Linked DNA regions of Homo sapiens: region 1 is linked to region 2. Evidence: fine-mapped expression QTL. A gene starts in region 2. The other region holds a variant in brackets. All regions are shown on one strand. Distances are between the middles of the regions. Region 1 holds the start of LOC107986578 (a long non-coding RNA gene). Region 2 holds the start of CDKAL1 (CDKAL1 threonylcarbamoyladenosine tRNA methylthiotransferase).

Region 1 (5,379 bases), 700 kb before region 2:
TGGAAATCTGATGTTTAGACACATTTTCCCAGCAACAAAGCAAAGTTTTAACCCAAGAATTCTTTACATTCTCAAACTGACTATCTCATGCTGGGATGATAAGAAAGGAAGCAGGGATGATAAGATGAAGCAGGGACAATAGAAAGGAGGGAAAGAAAGAAGGAAGGAAGGAGGGGGCAGGGCAAAGAAAAAAGCTTGATTAGTAAATCTTTATTTAAAAAGTATATCAAGTACCATGCACATTCTTGGAGCAGGACAACACAGACTGAAAGGCTGAAGGCCCCCAAGCTCAGGCATCCACAGGATTGATCCTAAATGTGTATCTGTTGGCACAGGTCAAGTTTAAGTCAAAGATGGGACAGAGGAGCAGGAGGAGTTTACAGAAGAGGAGTATATGCTTTGGAGTCAGGCTGTGTACCAGTCCTGCCTCTAAACTTAAGAGCTCTGTGCCTCTTGCACAAGTTACTTAGTCTTTTGAGTTTTAGATTTTCTTCTCAGTATGATGGGAATCACAATACGTATCTCAAAATTTTTTCTTCAGGACTGATTAACACCTGTTAAGTGCAAAGTATAACATCCAGTGCATTTCATTTAAGGACTAGACAGTTAATGGTTGTCAATATTATCATTACTATTAAAATAGGAATGACTTGTGGAAGGGAGACAGCAGAGACAAGGTCTGCTGAAGAATATCTAAGGTCCAAAGAGAAAAAATAGTGGGAGAATGACAGAATTCATGTCAACTGCTGGTGGGGATGTAAATTGGTACAACCACTTCAGAAAACCATTTAGCAGTATCTAAGCTGAACATATGCAAATGCTATGACCCAGCAATTCCACCCCTAGACATGTACTCCTCACATCATCACATAAACACTTAACAAAACGTGTTTATAGCAGCATTATTCATAATAGACAAAAAATTGGAAAGAACTCAAATGTAGAATGAACAATGTGGTGTACTCATACACTGAAATACTATTCAGCAATGAACGTGAAGTAATTACTGCTCACACAATAATCTGGATGTGTCTCACAATCACTGTAGAACAAAAGAAGGTAGACATGAAATAGTGCATACTACATGATTCCACTTATAGAAAGTTTAGAATCAGGCAAATCAATCTGTAATGTTAGAAATAAGGATACTGGTTACTCCTTGCGGGGCAGACTTAATGGCTAGGAGGGTACATGGGGAGCCTCCTGGTGCTGGCTACAATGCTTGCTCAGTTTTTAAAAATCCCTGTATCCCTATGATTTATGTCCATTTCATATGTATGTTTTATTCTAGTAAAGAGTTTAAGAAAAAAATTGGCCAAAGCATTGAAAAGATCACTTCATAGGTTTCCTTCTCAGCAGAGAAGTACACACACACACACACACACACACACACACACACACACCCCTTGATACTAATGCAAAGCATACAAAAGCATACAAAGAAAACATAACAATTACATTTACAATCTGCGGGTCAAGCATCCTATCACGGCTGACACTTCGTATAAATCAGGTTACGAATGCTACGGCTACGACCCCCAGATGCCGGTGGCTTAACACAACCACAATATATTTCTGGTTCCTGATGCCTATGTAGCACATGCTGGCCAGGAGCCCTACTCAACTGTACTAACTCAGGGACCCAGGGTCGGGGAGGCGTCATTCTGACATATGGGTCCAGGATCACCACAGCAGTGGGAAGAGCACACAGTAAACCGTACACCAGCTCTGAACATGTCTGCCCCGAAGAAGGACGTGACCCTTCCGCTCACATTTCACATTTCGTGCCTAACTTCAGCGGGGCGGGAGAAGCGCAGTTGCACTGTGGGCAGGAAGGAGACAGGCTGGAAAAGTAACAGCTCTACTCATGATCACACTTGCTCCCGTGGTTCCCAGACTCAGCCCCATTCAGAGTCCAGGGCTTAAGAAAACTGTTTTTAACTTGCACTGCATCCTTCTCTGCTCTCTCCCTCCCCCTCCCTAGAGATGGAGGTCACAGGGGGAAGAAAAACCCTGGATTTCCAGAACACTGCTACCCCTCTCACCAATTGGTCGCCAGTATGGAGACTGATTTCATGAAGGTCCAGCGTCTGCTGCGGGCAGTGACCTCGGTCCCTTTCTGGGTCAAACGGCAGAGTGAAGCTGCAGCCAAATTGAGGGTAAATAACAGTCACAGCAGGAAGTAGGGAGAATCCTGTACAGCTGAAACGATCCTTGAGGATCCCTGCCATGGTAGGTGAG[A/G]GCAGCAGGGGGGGAATTTGGATGACTGGGTGTATCATTCTCTTACAGGAAGAAAAAAATGAAAAAAGGCGAGGACAGCATAGAGCTAGAAGGGAGGAAATAAACAGATGAGGGAGTGAGGAAAAGAGTAGGGAAAGAGAAAAGGGAGGTAGAAAAAATCCTTTTTGTCTCCAATCAGTTACAGGTGTAAAGCTTTCTCTATGTCTGATCTAGTGCAACTCTAGGCTTTGGATGGCATTTTTATCTCTGCTAGGTTTTTGTTAAATGAGCACCACACTGGAACCCACTGTTTATTAACAAAGAAATGACTGCGTAGAGCTCAAGAAGGGAGGCACATGGTAGGTTCTTGTCCTCTTCTCATTCCTGCTAAGAAGTGAGGGGTGCTCCCAAGTGGATGTTTCACTGCAGGACTAGAAGCAGCACAGGAGGATTTTTGCATTCTAAATGTGAGCACCTCTTAGAAGCACATACCAGTTCCAGGAGAAATGTACTAACACTAAAAGCATATATATTTTATAATTTACCAACTAGGACATGACTGAATTTTAATTTGGGTTCCTTAAAAGACACACAAAACACAAACATTTTGAGTTAAATGTAAGAGCTGAAGAGGGGTATGGGTTTCGAGATGGAAAATATCCTATGGTAACTACACGGTACCTGGTTTTCCTGTACCTATGCAATCCAAATAAATTCTCAAAAACATAGGATTTGCTTAGTATACCAATTCTATTTATTGTTAAAGAAAGAAGTCACTTCACTTAGTAAAGACCAATGATGGCAGGTAGAAATAAAAACATTTAATCTGGGCTGGGTGGAGTGGCTCACGCCTGTAATCCCAGCACTTTGGGAGGCTGAGGCAAGAAGACTGCTTGAGGCTAGGAGTTCCAGGCAAGCCTGGGCAACATAGTGACACTCATCTCTACAAAAAATTAAAAAATTAGTTGGGCATGGTGGTATATGCCTGTAGCCCCTGGCTATTAGGGAGGCTGAGGTAGGAGGACTGCTTGAGTCCAGGAGGTCAAGGCTGCAGTGAGCCAAGATAGTGCCATTGCACTCCAGCCAGGGTGACAGAGTGAGACCTTGACTCAAAAAAAAAAAAAAACAAAAACAAAAAAAAAACCCCAATGGATCAAAAATGTGAGAAAATGGGCACAATTAGTTTTCGACAAATCCAGTTTTCCAGTTTCATATTTCACAGAATGTTGCCAGGAGTCCTTTAGCTGGCAGACTCTCCCCGTGCATTCCAAAAGCATTCAGGTTCCCAGAACAGGTTTCTATACACTTTTCAGGAACACATCTGCTGTGAAAAATACAATGTTTGTAGCACTGGGACTCCAAACAAAGCCTGAAGGGGAAGATGCACTTAAAAATATTTATTAAAGAGGCCGGGCGCAGTGGCTCACGCCTGTAATCCTAGCACTTTGGGAGGCCGAGGCGGGCGGATCACTTGAGGTCAGGAGTTCGAGACTAGCCTGGCCAACATGGTGAAACTCCGTCTCTACTGAAAACACAAAAAAATTGTCTGGGCTTGGTGGCGCATGCCTGTAATCCCAGCTACTTGGGAGGCTGAGGCAGGAGAATCGTTTGAACCCAGGAGGCAGAGGTTGCAGTGACCTGAGATCGTGCCACTGCACCACTCCAGCCTGGGGGACAAGAGCGAAACTCCATCTGGAAAAAAAAAACAAAGAAAAAGTTTATTAAAGATAGAAAATTCTTCCACATGAGGAAAAGATGGCCAGAGCCACTGTACAATTAGGTTCTGACTTAAAGATTAGAGATTGAAACAAACAGAAAAAAATGCAACCGCTTGCATTTCTTGCTAAAAGTAAACCAAAAGCAGTTTAATTTGAAGGATGTGCTATGGTAGCGGTGATTAGGTTTTAGGTCAAATAACCAATGGGCCCAACTCAATGTGAGACAGGGGGAGCCTCATTAAGAAGAGTGGCTGAGAAGGAGGCAGCATGACCAGTACAAATTATTGCCCTTGGAGAATGGAGATGTCGCTTTCCTGTTCATTGAAGATTTTAATTAGAAATGTATTCTTCTTTATAGATGTTTCCATTAGTTGTATTCTAATTATAGACCTTGACAAAAAAAGCAAAAAGAAGACCCAGCAGAGCCAAGCCCACGGACATCCTCAGCGCACAGTCTTGATGTAGCCTTGGCATGGGCAGCACCATTCTGGAACTCGCTGAGTCACACTGAGATGCAGCAGAGGTGTGGGATCCTGAACTCAGCTGGTTCCCAAGCCCATTTCTGAAGTCCTATAAAGAGAGAAACAGAGGAAAAAATTATTTTTAGATGCAGAGAAAGCCCTGTTGTGATATCAATCAAGCAATGGGTTCCAGAAGGTGCCGCCTTTTATGTACTCCTTCAACAGAGACACGTTTGAACACCCACCATGGGCCAGGTGGCCCCAAGGTAGGTATGAATGAGTCAGTTCCTTTCCTTGAAGGGCCAGGCCAAGTTCATGACTCCAGACTACACATAAACTGTATGAGAAAGACGGGCCGTGTTTATAGAAAATCAAGGCAGAATTCATGAAGGGTAGAATCTGTGTAAAGTGGAGTCATACCACAGACATATTTAACTCTTAGAGAGATGCAACCATATCTTCTCAGCAATGGAAGAATGACAAAGAAACACCATGGGCCAGGTGTGGTGGCTCACGCCTGTAATCCCAGCACTTTGGGAGGCCAAGGCGGGCTGATCACTTGAGGTCAGAGGTTTGAGACCAGCCTGGCCAACATGGTGAAACCCCGTCTCCACTAAAAATATAAAAATTAGCTGGGTGTGGTGGCAGGTGCCGGTAGTCCCAGCTACTCTGGAGGCTGAGGCAGGAGAATTGCTGGAACCTGGAAGGTGAAGGCTACAGTGAGCCAAGATTGCGCTGCTGCACTCCAGCCTGGGCAACAGAGTGAGACCCTGTCTCAAAAACAAACAAACCAACCAACAACCATGGAAGCCATGATTCAGCAAACACATCCCTAGGACAAAGATTCCCAGCTGGTCTGCTGCCACAGGAGGGCTGCGCCAAGAGTGACCCACCCCACATAACCCCACACTCAGTCCCCTCAAAGTACCTTGTGTGCCATACAAATACTATCATCATTTTCTCTTCATGCCAGATAGAGA
Region 2 (5,379 bases):
GTAATTATGAGACAGAGTTTCACTCTTGCTGCCCAGGCTGGAGTGCAATGGCACGATCTCGGCTCACTGCAACCTGTGCCTCCTGGGTTCAAGCAATTCTCCTGCCTCAGCCTCCCGAGTAGCTGGGATTACAGGCACCTGCCACCACGCCCAGCTAATTTTGTATTTTTAGTAGAGACGGGGTTTCACCATGTTGGTCAGGCTGGTCTTGAACTCCCAACCTCAGGTGATCCACCTGCCTTGGCCTCCCAAAGTGCTGGGATTACAGGCGTGAGCCACTGCACCCAGCGGGAAGCTTTTCATCATATCAAATCTCCAGGTTCCATTCTGAATTAGAATCTCCAAGAGTAGAACTGAAGTATGTGAACATAGAAACTGTCCAGGTAATTCCACTATAGATCCCTAATTAAGAACCACGATTCCACAGTAATGGTTCTCAATCTTCAACACTCATTCTATTCACCTGAAGAGCTTTTGAAAATTCCCAACTAAGCTTGCAGTGAGCCGAGATCACGCCACTGCACTCCAGCCTGGGCGACAGAGCGAGACTCTGTCTCAAAACAAAAACAAAAACAAAAGAAAAAAAAGAAAATTCCCAACTAAGCCCCAAGATAGCTGAATGAATCTCTGAGAATGGAGCCTGGGCATCAATATCTTTTAAAAACTTTCCAGTCATTCTCATGTGTGTACAGCCACAGTTGCAAAGCAATGTCCAGTGGTTTTCAAAGTGTAGTTTCCACATCAGCTGGAGTAGCATCATGGGGAACTTGTTAGAAATGAACATTTTTTCTTTTTCAGTTTTTTTGTAAAAACAAGGTCTCGCTTTGTTGTCCAGGCTGGTCTCAAACTCCTCCCATCTTGGCCCCTAAAGTATGGGATTACAGGCATGAGCCACCATGCCCAGCCAGAAATGAAAATTCTTGAACTCCACTCCAGACATACTAAATCAGATATTTTGAGTAAAACCTAGCAATATTTAACAGGCCCTCTAGGTGATTTTGATCTGAATTAAAGTTTGATAATCACTGTCCCAGAATTATTCTTTCATAAAAACCACCTAGAATGTATGTCAAATATACATAACCTAGACAATTCAAGGGGGAAAGCGTAGTTTTTTTTTCAACAAATGACACTGGGATAACTGGATAGCAACATGTAAAAAATAAAGTTGGAGCCCTATTTCACATTTCACATCATATACAAAAATTAACCGAAAATGGATCATAGACCTAAATTTAGGAGCTAACATTATGAAACTCTTAGAAAAAAACATAAGCACAAATCTTTATGATGTTAGAGTAGGCCCTTCTTTCTTAGCTAAGAAATGAAAAGCACAAGCAACAAAAGGAAAAACAGATTAGATGAAGAAGATACAGAAATGGGCCAGGTGCAGAGGCTCATGCCTATAATCCCAACACTGGGAAGCCAAGGTGGCAGGATCACTTCAGGCCAGGAGTACAAGGCCAGAGCCTAGGCAACACGGACCCTATCGCTACAAAAAAAAAAAAAAAAGTAAAATTTAGCCGGGCATGGTGGCATGCACCTGTAGTCCCAGCTACTTGGGAGGCTGAAGTGGGATCACTTGAGACCAGGTGGTCAAGGCTGCAGTGAGCCGTAATCGAGCCACTGCACTCTGGCCTGGGTGGCATAGGGAAGCCGTGTCTCAAAAACACACACATACAAATGGCTGATAAGCACATGAAAAGATGTCAACATCATGAGCCATCAGGGAAATGGAAATCCAAACCACAATAATACACCACTTCATACCCATTAGGATGGGTAGAATCAAAAAGACAAATAACTGTTGACAGGCATGTGGATTACATCACCCAGAGGGGAAGAAAAAGAGAACAGAGGTAGGAGAAGGTACAAGACCACGACTTGAGAGACTCCAAATTTAACTGCCAGATAAAGGAAAATCAGCTTATAATGGATTCCAAGAAGCAGCCACCAGACAAGGAAAAAAATCCATGGGCCATGGAAGGCAAATGAAAAGGGCATCTCAAAAAAGTGGACATGGTCAATGCTGGTGAATGAAAATGAAAGGTTAAGTAAAATAAATGAAAATATCTCTTCGATTTAATGCTATGTAAAGCACAATGTTTCCATAACATGATAGTGGCAAATAGCTAAAACATTAGGCTACCTCTCTGCATTTTCTAACATGCAGAAATACGCACAGCACTCAAACATAAAAGGTTTAAAATAAATCAGTACCTTAATTATCTGCAATTAGTCTAAAGTCCTCTTGAAAGATGAGTCTGGAAAATAAAAATTGATTAGGAAAAGTAAGCACCCAAAAAGTTCACAAAACCACTGTAAGGATTCTTTACTTAAAAGGAATCAGACTCCATAAAAGACTGCTTTATACAGCAGGATTAATGATGCTCCATACTACTTGTAACTTCTTACTGATTACAACAGGTGTGCTGACATCTGCCGTGACGGTGATCCAGTGTCTGGCTTTAGTAATAAATGTTGTATTCAGCACCGCAACACGTCTGCATAGTGCGAGTAACCAACCACTACAAAACAGGATTAAGTCAATAAGGTAGATAGACATCCAGATCACGTTCCATCCGAAAGATAACTGTCGTCCCGAGATTCAGAAAAAGGTTTTATGAGCAAAGAAGAACGAAAAGTGAAAAAGCAAGACACCTGCTTTTCTCAATAACTTCTGCTTAAATTCTTAACATACTGATCTGGGAAAGCTATATAACTGCGAAAGCCTTGTCACATCTACAAATTCACTAAGGTATAAAGTGGGAGAACAAATGAAGTTAAACCTGACAATAAGGAACGAGGTGCCTAAAATACTCCTAACTGGAGAGCGGCACCTGAGGCCAACGACCCTATCCTCGCTCCTGGAAGCCCCATCTGCCTCCCAATTCCCCCATCCCAGCTGGCAAATCCCCTTTTAACTGCGAAACAAATTTGCAAACAGCCCAAGAAAAACTGAAACTGGAGAAACAAGGCTTGGCCATAAAAGGAGCTGTGGCCACACTCTGCCCCACATGGACCCATCGGCCACCCTTACCCAGAAGTCGGGAAGTAAAAACCAGTCCAAAGTGAGAAAATCAACCCGCCACTCTCCGGAAGCTGCACAGACTTTAGATGGAGAGCGCCATGACACATACGTCCCGCCACGTTTATTTGCGCATGCTCAGCGACGGTGGCCCGAAGAGATCAAATTACATCATTGCTGAAAGCGCTAGTTCTGGTTTAACTTAGTTTAGGAATGACTACGCTTCAAGTTCCTTTGATTCCAAGAACTAAAATAACAACCCTGAGTCCTCGGGTTCCTAGAAATGCTTAATAGCCAACTTCTCCTAAGCTTTTATGTGTTAGACACTGTGCTAAGTACTTTGCATAAATATTATTCACTATTTATTTATTATTATTATTATTCCCAGTTTACAAAAGAGGACACTGGAAGTTTAAGGACTTAATCTAAGTTACTCTACTAGTCGTGCTGCGCTCTGGGCTGGATCCGATGCTGTCTGACTCCCAAAGAACTTGCTCTTTTCACTGCATTTTACTAGCCTCCTCAATCATTTGTGAAAAGAGGTCTCTTCTTTAATATTAAAAAAACAGGAAGGAAAGGATAAAGGTCAGTTGGTAGGTTTCACTTAATATACATCATTGAGCACCACACAAGTGTTTTTGTTTTTTGTTTTGGAAAACTTAGATGGCAGTTTAGCAGACACCTATGGAAAGAAAATACTTTTATGGAGTACGGATTCTCACCCGCTTTCTCTACATATGTTATCTCACTTTACTATTCGTTACCCAAGACACTGTATTTGACCATGTGTTTACCAGAAGAATATCTTTACTTGAAAAAGTAAAGGTAATAGGAGGCAATAGGCCATGAAGAAGGGTCAGAAATCGTGAGTTTTATGCCTGACTTAGGGTTTCATAGTGATTTGGGGCAATTACTTTGTTTTGCAAATGCCTTTCCTAGTACAATTTCATCTAATTAAAATGCCATCCATCTACTCAAGAGGCTGATGTGGGAGGATCACTTGAGCTCAGAAGTTTGAAAACAGCCTGGGCAACACAGTGAGACCCAGTCTCTAAAATAGATTTAAAAAAAAAAAAAAAAACCACCCTTTTCTCTGTTTATCCATATCCATAAAATAATCTAAACTGTGCCCTGGGGTCCACTGTTGTCTTTACCCACCTAAATTAAAATTGTGTATTTATGTTGCCCTACTTTTTTTTTTTTTTTTTTTTTTTTTTTAGATAGGGTCTTCTTCTGTCACCCAGGCTGGAGTACAGTGTTACCATCACAGCTCACTGCAACCTCTCCCTCCTAGCCTCAAGAGATTCTCATGCCTTAGCCTCCCAAGTAGCTGGGACTACAGGTGCACACCACCATACCCATCTAATTCCATCTCTTTCACTAGACCAAAAGTAGGCCCTGGGTTATCTTCTTGGTTGTAATCGCACTACCTAGCACATAACCTTGTGCCTATGTTTATAGCTTCTCAATAAACATATGTTGAATGAATGAATGAATGAATGAATGACTCCACCCCTTTTCCCCCAAGATCTAGTTGAGTTCAGTAAAAGATATTTTACTGAGTATGTACCCCATGACCACAAGCACTGTGATAGATGCTAGAGCTAAAAAGAAAGAAAAAAAGTACTGCCTATTGCAATTGCAGGCTATTTTGAAAAAATTCATTTCAGTAGAGAATAGCAATCACTATGAAAGATGAATGCACAGGAACACAAAGGTGAAGTAAGGGAAATGGATGAAGGCATTCCAAGCTGGAGAGTCAGCCAGAGCAAAAGCAAGGAGGCCTGAAATGATGAATTATTCCACAGTGTAAAAGCAAAGAGAGTGAAGCTGGTGATGGGAGAAGTCTACCAGAGAAAGGGAAGCACAGGGACTAGATCAAGGTGAACCTTGTGTATTCAAAGGCATTAGACTTAATCCTGGATGTATGTAGTAGGCAACATGAATGTGTTCGAGCAGATTATTCTCTCAGGACAATGGGTTTGAGGACGATATTTCAGACATGAAGAAATAGTAAAAGCCTAAATTGAGTTGTTGGCTGGGAGGAATGGGAAGGAAGGACAGATTTAAACAAATTGAGGAGGTAACAGCAGCAAGACTTGGTGATTGATAGGTACGAAAAAAGAGGAAGAAAGGATGTTTTCAAGTTTTGGCTACAAAAACTAACTAACAGGTGAAACCTCTCTCTTTAAGCACCTTTAGTCTAAATCCTTTGAAGTCAGTAACCCTACCTCTAGGAATTTATCTTACAGAAATATACATAATGACCTATGTTCCAGAGTATTTTTTGAAGCATTGCTTACAATGACCTATGTTCCAGAGTATTTTTTGAAGCATTGCTTACAATGACC

The links.
Region 1: its variant is fine-mapped to the expression of CDKAL1 in CD4 T cells (CEDAR, PIP 0.95). The same link has a PIP of 0.9 or more in B cells and monocytes.

What each region holds. Positions count from the first base shown.
Region 1 is chr6:21,229,977-21,235,355 of GRCh38, reverse strand. CDKAL1 (CDKAL1 threonylcarbamoyladenosine tRNA methylthiotransferase) reads right to left here. Exons shown (of 16, transcript NM_017774.3): 16 at 2,952-4,508. The coding sequence ends at 4,317. It overlaps LOC107986578 (a long non-coding RNA gene), which reads left to right and starts at 4,297. Exons shown (of 2, transcript XR_001744021.2): 1 at 4,297-4,665. RefSeq lists an enhancer at 3,936-5,135. The variant A/G (reference allele first, on the strand shown) is at 2,242.
Region 2 is chr6:20,532,236-20,537,614 of GRCh38, reverse strand. CDKAL1 (CDKAL1 threonylcarbamoyladenosine tRNA methylthiotransferase) reads right to left here and starts at 3,158. Exons shown (of 16, transcript NM_017774.3): 1 at 3,041-3,158; 2 at 2,221-2,264. RefSeq lists enhancers at 2,960-3,039, 3,070-3,229.